2 linked regions of the Homo sapiens genome follow. The gene in region 1 interacts genetically with each later gene. Each region holds a gene or a part of one and is shown on either strand. Other genes may lie near its edges. The genes, in order: MET and CHEK1.

Region 1 (3,825 bases):
TATTGACGCTTAGCAAAAACCAACTTCCTATTTTTTTCTGGAACAAAAAGGCCTTACACAATTTTAGAGATCTCTTGGACATCAAAGAGCTTAGAGGGACATACAGTTTGTGAGTAATGATTTAAGATTTAGTGAATCAAAGACACATGGATTAAATTTCCCTTAAAAGACCCCTAGGTTTAAAATTTAATAGCTAAAATGCTGGTCTAGATACACTCTGGTCCCAATGCTGGTCCCAAGCAAAGCCAAAACCTATTTTTAAAGCTAGGTTGAATTGTCTTATGGACCCAAACCTTGGCTGGGTTTTCCTTTCCCACATGATTAGGCCTCAAAGGAGGCAACCTATCTCTAATAAATTTACCACTTCTCTTTTTCTCTGACTTGCAAAGACCATATTATTTCAAAGGTCTCAGCTTTGAATGTCTTTCTTTACATTTTTAATAAAATATTAAAAATTAGAAATCTTCCACGGTCTTATCAAACAGTTATTCCCCAAGTCATTCTTTTTTAAAAAAAAACATACATTTTCAAATTGGACCTGAGAGTCTAGGTGCTGCCTCAGAATTCCAACTATTAAGGAGTAGGAGACCATTTCAAAACAGGAATAGACCACTGATCTTAATATGTATACTGTATGTGCACTGTTTCATGATATATTATTATATTTGCATTTAAAATAGTAGGAAGAAATACAGTACATAATCTCCCTTTCTAACACAGTGGCCTTCTGGAGGGCTGCTAGCTTGGGCATTTCACTGAGATTTTAGGATTAAAGGAAACAAATTAGTGCACAACCTGTGAGCTTTTATTCCTTTGGAAAAATAGATTTTAACACTGATCTGATTGCTTTTAAAGGGCACTGGAAACCAGGAGGGCAGTGCATGTTTTGAATTTCAATGGCAGGGTAATAACAACGGGTGAAGTTCAGTCATTTCCAGAGACAGAGACAGAGAGAGAGAGAGACAGAGAGAGAGAGAGAGAAAGACAATATTCCAAAGGGGGAGTTTATCCTGAATCAGAGAACTTGGAAATGAAATTGATGCATAAAGCCATGATGGATTCAGGTTTCAGAAAACTACTACTTCAGTTTAAGAATGAAATAACTAGATTACCCTTTAGTTTAGAAACGTACATAGTTTGATGTAAAGTATGTGGGCTGATGAGTTTAGAAAAATAACCACGTGCCAATAGGAACTGACATAAAATATTGGTTTTAAAAAATTTGTTTAGTTAATTTTCTGAGAATTTTAGAAAATAAAATATTTTGTAGAAGCAGTCCTGGGGCTCTCGGGCCATGCATGCTGCTGCAATTGGGACCATCAGGAGCCCAATCTGGCTTGCAGACTTTCTGCCACTGTAAGCTGTATGGTGTTTTAAAGACACTGAGTCAACATTTTAAAATTGGGAGAGTCCTAGCTTCTCTTGAAAATCTGAAAGATACTACCACATGGGCCCATGCCATACACTGAGCCTCACAACAGCTCTAATCACGCCAAGCAGTGACTGCCCCTCTGCTTTTCCTAAGCAGTTTGTCAATCCCTAGTGAAATGGTTAGTTTTCCTCATTTAAGTTACCTGTTTGCAAATCTTGATACAGGATATAAATAGGGGAATAAGGGAAAAGGAAGAAAAGAGGAAGAAAATCCAATGCAGTGACTTAATACTGGAAAGGAAAAGGAAGGAGAGCGAGGGGGAAAGAAAGAAGTGCATAGCAGACAGAAGCTGCACACCATCAGCAACTGCCTCTTGCTGTCTTTAGATTTATACTATGGAAGGGATCAGTGAAAAAAGCCATGGGTATCCTTCTCAACAAATCCCACTGTGACAGGCTCACAGTGTGGAAAATAAGAAGGAAAATTGTCTGAATGGAGCAATATCTCTGATAGAGGATGGAGTATGGGATGGGACCAGGCGGATGCAAAACAAAACAAAACAAAACAAAACAAAAAAACAAAAAAAAAAACAAAACAACACTCTGGGTCTTCTTCTTCCATGTCTCATAAACCAAGAGATGTGGGCCACTCCTGTATCTTCATCTTTAACATGGTAGCTAATGATGGCAGGCACTGTCCAGGTATTTCCCTACAAAAACAGGGGCACTATTCAGGTATCTCCCTCCAAAATCAGGGAGTCTATGGACAGTTGTGCAAGCTGTGAACTGCACAATTTCAGGAAAAACAAGATGAGAATAGCACTCCTGAGAAGTGCTCCTCATATGCGCCTGGCTCACTTCCTTATCTCCTTCAGATTCTAGCCCAAAGCCCACCTTTGAAGACAAGCCTTCCCTGACCTCACTATTGAGTTTTTCAATCACCATCCCACTCTCTCTTATCCTTGACAGTCACTATTCTCTTTTCCATTTTATTCTACCTTGAAGCTATTATCATCACCTGACATACAACACATTTCAGTTATGTATTTCTTTATTGTTTGCCAACTCAATAGAACAGAGTGTCATGAGGTTAGAGGTTTTCATCTGTTTTATACTCTGTGGAAATGCCAGATTTTAGAACTATGCCTCGTAGGTTGTCAAAAAATTGTCCTGAATGAATGACTAAATCCTCATTCACATTCTTGGAGTACAGGAACCTGGCTTTCACGATAACTTGTGATTCTCTAAGCACATTTCATAATTGCTATCCTTAATTATATTAGGAGAGATACATTTTCAAATTCTATTGCCCATTATATAATCGCCTGTGGGCCCTATAGCTACATAATTTATTATAGAAATTAAAATCAATGGGAGTAACCTACATAAACATACTTGCACACATTTATGCAATCACAGAGAGAAATATGTGTACCTGGGTATGTGATTACAAAGTTAACTTTTTTATTTCACTGAGCTCATACCTCCTGCTACAAATGCCACACGTGATTTTTTCTCTCAATTAAGTTTTACAGCTTATAAAAGCACTTTTTTCATTTTGTCCCATGAAAAGCAAAGTAGTCAGATTTTACTGGATGTTTTTATTGAAACAAATCCCAAGCGGAATATACTAACCTGTTTAACACAGCTGAAAAGATATCTGAGAATGGGCTTTCTGATAGAAGGATAGATTACAAAATTATTCACGGCTCTTAATCTGATAACAGGAGCAGAATGCCCCACACATATGAATGAAACCTTTTCTCGGTATGTCTCACTACAAAGAAAAGAAAAAAAGAAAAGAAAAGAAATTAAAAAAAAAAAAGAGAGAGAGAACTGGAGAAAGAGAAGGTGACAAAAACTCCAGGGACTAGATATGTTATATTCATCATTTACCACTATCTTAAGCATCCCTAATGATGCCTCCATGGAAAATGTTTCCAATAGTTGATGGCTGAGGAAAGGTGGTATGGTGCTATTGAAATAGCATGGAGCTAGTCTCAAGCTCAGTTTCCTTGTCTATAACATAAGAATGTTAAGATGTTATCAGACTTGCCTATCTTGTAAGGTCGTTTTGGTATCAGAAAGGTGATGTATGCAGAAACAGCTTGAAAATGTTAAGGTTTTTAAGTTCCAAACTTTGATTTTTAAAAAAAAATTCTATTATTTCATAGCAAATAGGATGATTTTGAAAGCGTTTCTCATGTGATGTCCTCTTAATAATTATGAATTTGTGTTCATTTAATATGTGATATTTGTCTGTGTATCTAGATCATAAACTTCTCAAGGGCAGATTCCATTTCTTTCTTTTAAAGAAAATGCTGTAGTACCTAGCACATATGATACTCTACCTATAGGTCCTAGCTATTTTTGGTCAGGCAAATGTGGATCTAGCAGCAACTCAGTGTCAGTTGAGAACACATCATCAAAGTGATTCTGAACTAACATTAGTCA
Region 2 (3,825 bases), on another chromosome or scaffold:
AGTATTGATAGGACTGTTAGGCTGTGAATGGAAGGAGAGAGGACAATGACTAGAGATGATGAATGAAAAACATTCAGAGAGTTATTAATGTTTAACTCTGTCCTCATGGATAGAAAAGAGTTAATGTTTAAACATTCACTCTTCTTTAATACCTCTCTGCATGTTTCTTCCTCCTTGTCCTAACTTAAAGTCCAATTCTCCCCTGAGGACACTGCTTCCTCTGAAGCGGTAGGTGTTTTCTTTCCCATACCCTCATGTCCTTTGATCTGGACATGGTACAGGTGTCCTCCTTATTCTTCATTGTCACTTTCTCCCATCTTCCTTTATGTCTCTCCCCTCTAACTTTTGAACCCCAAATTAAAATTTCTGCCGTACTATCACAGTCTGCAAAATGACTCTTGATGTTATTTTCGTCATGATTCTTGGTGATTTAAATATTTATTTGGATCATCCTCCTGATATCCTGACTTCACTGTTTCTTGACCCTCTCTCCTATAGTGATGTTGTCTTTGAACACGCTGCACTGATCACCAGTATAATTTTTTCTGACTTCCTCCCTTAATATTCTAACTTAAACAGTCCTTTGTATCTGGACTTGCAATTAATTAATTCTATCTCTTCAGTCTCTTACCTGCTCCCTCTCTAGGTCCTTGATTTCATCTTTACCTATCTTAAATCTTTAGGTTAGTCATTATAAATGACTGCTTTGCGTTCATCATCTTCAATTTCCTTGTCCCCTTCTCTCTTCATCATACTTAGTGGGTAAAACCCAGTAAGTAGTTTCTGGGTTTAATCTAGTAGTTTTCTACGTACTGCACACTTGTACCTGCACAACAGATTGCAGCAGGAGAAAAATACCCAAAAATGTTCACTTTAAATTCAGGATTACTAATCTCAAGTGGGCCCTTAATGCTTCCTGGCATTTGGCCTTCGTTTCCCCACATCTTTCTCTGTCCTGTTCTCCTAAATCACGTTTTTATAATACTTTTCTCTTTTTTTTTTTTTTTTTTTTGAGACAGGGTCTAGGCTGGAGTGCAGTGGCGCCATCTCCACTCACTTCAACCTCTGCCTCTCAGGTTCAAGCGATTCGATTCTCGTGCCTTAGCCACCCGAGTAGCTGGGATTACAGGTGTGAACCACCACACCTGGCTAATTTTTATATTTTTAGTAGAGGTTTTGCCATGCTGGCCAGGCTGGTCTCAAACTCCTAGCCTCAAGTGATCCCCCTGCCTCAGCCTCCCAAAGTGCTGGGTTTATAGGTGTGAGCTACTGTGTCTGGTCCCTTAACTTTTATTATCTTCTCTCCATCCTCACTCTCAGTTGTTCACTTTGCTTCCTGTGTCACTGGGAAATGAAAGCCACAAGAGAACTTAGGCAAGCTCCCACCACCATCTCCTCCATACTAACTGCCTCTATGCTCATGTATTCTCTTTCATCCTGTATTGCTGTAGATAAATTGCTCTGGATGTAAGCCAGGTCTTTCTCTTACCCACTCAATGACTTTGTCTAGCAATTTTTCTCCCTCTCCTACATTATTAATTTTTCCTTCTCTACCGGATCTTTCTCATCAGCATATCTACATGCTTTTTCTCCCATTTTAAAATCAAATCATAATGGTAATAAAATTTCTCTTAACTCCACTTTTCCCTACCATTCCATCTTCTTCACAATTGAATATTCCTAAAATTGCTTCTCATCTCTAACACCTCAAAACTAGTTTTCAATTTCATCTATTTTGTTGCCAAGAGTCACAGTGATTTTTGGAACGTGTTGCCAAGTTCAATGTAATAGTCCACTGTGGTCAACCGAGGTCTGAAAAGATTAAATGGAAAGTACCAGAAGTAAACAATTCATCAATTCATGGGTTTTGGCCGGGCGCGGTGGCTCACGCCTGTAATCCCAGCACTTTGGGAGGCCAAGGCGGGCGGATCACGAGGTCAGGAGATCGAGACCATCCTGGCTAACACGGTGTCACCCCGTCTCTACTAAAAATACAAAAAATTAGCCGGGCGAGGTGGCGGTCGCCTGTAGTCCCAGCTACTCGGGAGGCTGAGGCAAGAGAATGGCGTGAACCCCGGGGGGCGGAGCTTGCAGTGAGCCGAGATCGCACCACTGCACTCCAGCCTGGGCAACAGCGAGACTCCGTCTCAAAAAAAAAAAAAAAGAAATTCATGGGTTTTATTTATTTATTTAATTCGAGACGGGATCTCGCTCTGTCGCCCAGACTGGAGTGCAGTGGCGTGGTCTCCACTTACTGAAACCTCTACCTCCTGAGCTTAAATGATCCTCCCATCTCAGCTTCCCGAGTAGCTGGGACTACAGGTGTGAGCCACTATGCCCGGCTAATTTTTGTATTTTTGGTAGAGATGAGGTTTCGCCATGTTGCCTATGCTTTTCTACCAAAAATACAAAAATTAGCCAGGTGTGGTGGTTCACGCCTGTAATCCCAGCTGTTCTCAAACTGCTGGGCTTAAGCAATCCACCCACCCCGGCCTCCCAAAGTACTGGGATTATAGGCATGAGCCACAATGCCCTGCCATAGGTTTTAAATTGTGTGCTGTTCTGAGTAGCATAATAAAATCTTGTGCTGTCCTACTTCATCTCACTTGGGATGTGAATCACTCCTTTTTCCAGTGTATTCACGTTCCATGTGCTACCTGCTTGTAACTCCCTTAGTAGCTGTTTTGGTTATTAGATCGAAAGAACATATATAGGGTTTGGTACCATTTGTACTTTCAGGCATCCACTTGAACATATCCCTCTGTGGATAAGGGGGGTACTACTGTAGTCAGTTCTCAGACCTCTTGTTTTATCTCATCAATATTTTATACAGTTGATCATGCCCTCCTCCTTTAAACACTTTCTTCATTTGGCTTCCAGGCGTTACACTCTTCTGATTTTCGTCCTTCTCACTGGTCGCTCTTTTCAGTCTCTTGATGGTTTTTTTTCATCTGCTCAGCCTCCTACTATTGGAGTTCTCCAGGGCTGAATCTATGGATCTCCTTTGTTTTCTTCTCCACACTCACTCCATTAGTGATATTACTTGGTTTCATGGCTCTAAATAAAACTATATGTTGATAGTCACATTTATATCAACCTAGACCTTTCCTCTGAATTCCAAACTTACATGTCTTAACTGCCTTCTGAAATTTCACTTGAATGTTAAGAGGCATCTCACACTTGATGAATTCCAAACTGAGTTACTGATCTTTTCCTTTCAAACCCATTCCTTTTCAAAGTCTTTCCCATGTTGGTTAATGGCAACTGCATTATTCTTATTATGCAGATCAGAAACTTTGGAATCATCCTTCATTTTTCTCATTCTCTTTTACTTCACATCCAGTACACCAGCTAATTCTGTTAACCTCTATCTTTAAAAAAATCTTAGAATCTGATTACCTTTTTTTTTTTTACCTCTACTGTTACCCTATCATTCCAAATTACCATGATATCTTTCCAAAATGTTCTGATTTAAAAGTGAATTAGAATATATCACTATTCTACCCAAATCCTCCAATGCTTTAGTTCTCACGTGTAGTGTAAGCTAAAATCAGTTCATGACCTGTGAGTTCTTACACAATTTTGTTCCTTACATTACCTCTCCAACCTCAGTTCTGCTTTGCTCCCCCTTGGTCATATTGTTGTTCTTCTTATTGTTCTCCAAGTGCTCTAGGCACACTTCTACCTCACTGTTTTTGTAGTGACTGTTCCTATGTCTGAAAATGCTTTTTCCCATGGGACTTATTTGCATGTCTTATTCTCTTACTTTCTTTGGATATTGACTTCAGTGTCATCTTTCCAATAAGCCTTTCCTGGCCATGCTAT

Evidence for each region.
Region 2: changes in MET (region 1) and CHEK1 together harm fitness more than expected from each alone (negative genetic interaction), as found in Homo sapiens cells (one large-scale study listed by BioGRID).

What each region holds. Positions count from the first base shown.
Region 1 is NC_000007.14:116,675,126-116,678,950, reverse strand, and holds part of MET (hepatocyte growth factor receptor isoform b preproprotein), read right to left. Parts: intron 1-3,825. UniProt on the Homo sapiens protein: Receptor tyrosine kinase that transduces signals from the extracellular matrix into the cytoplasm by binding to hepatocyte growth factor/HGF ligand. Regulates many physiological processes including proliferation, scattering, morphogenesis and survival.
Region 2 is NC_000011.10:125,638,391-125,642,215, forward strand, and holds part of CHEK1 (serine/threonine-protein kinase Chk1), read left to right. Parts: intron 1-3,825. UniProt on the Homo sapiens protein: Serine/threonine-protein kinase which is required for checkpoint-mediated cell cycle arrest and activation of DNA repair in response to the presence of DNA damage or unreplicated DNA.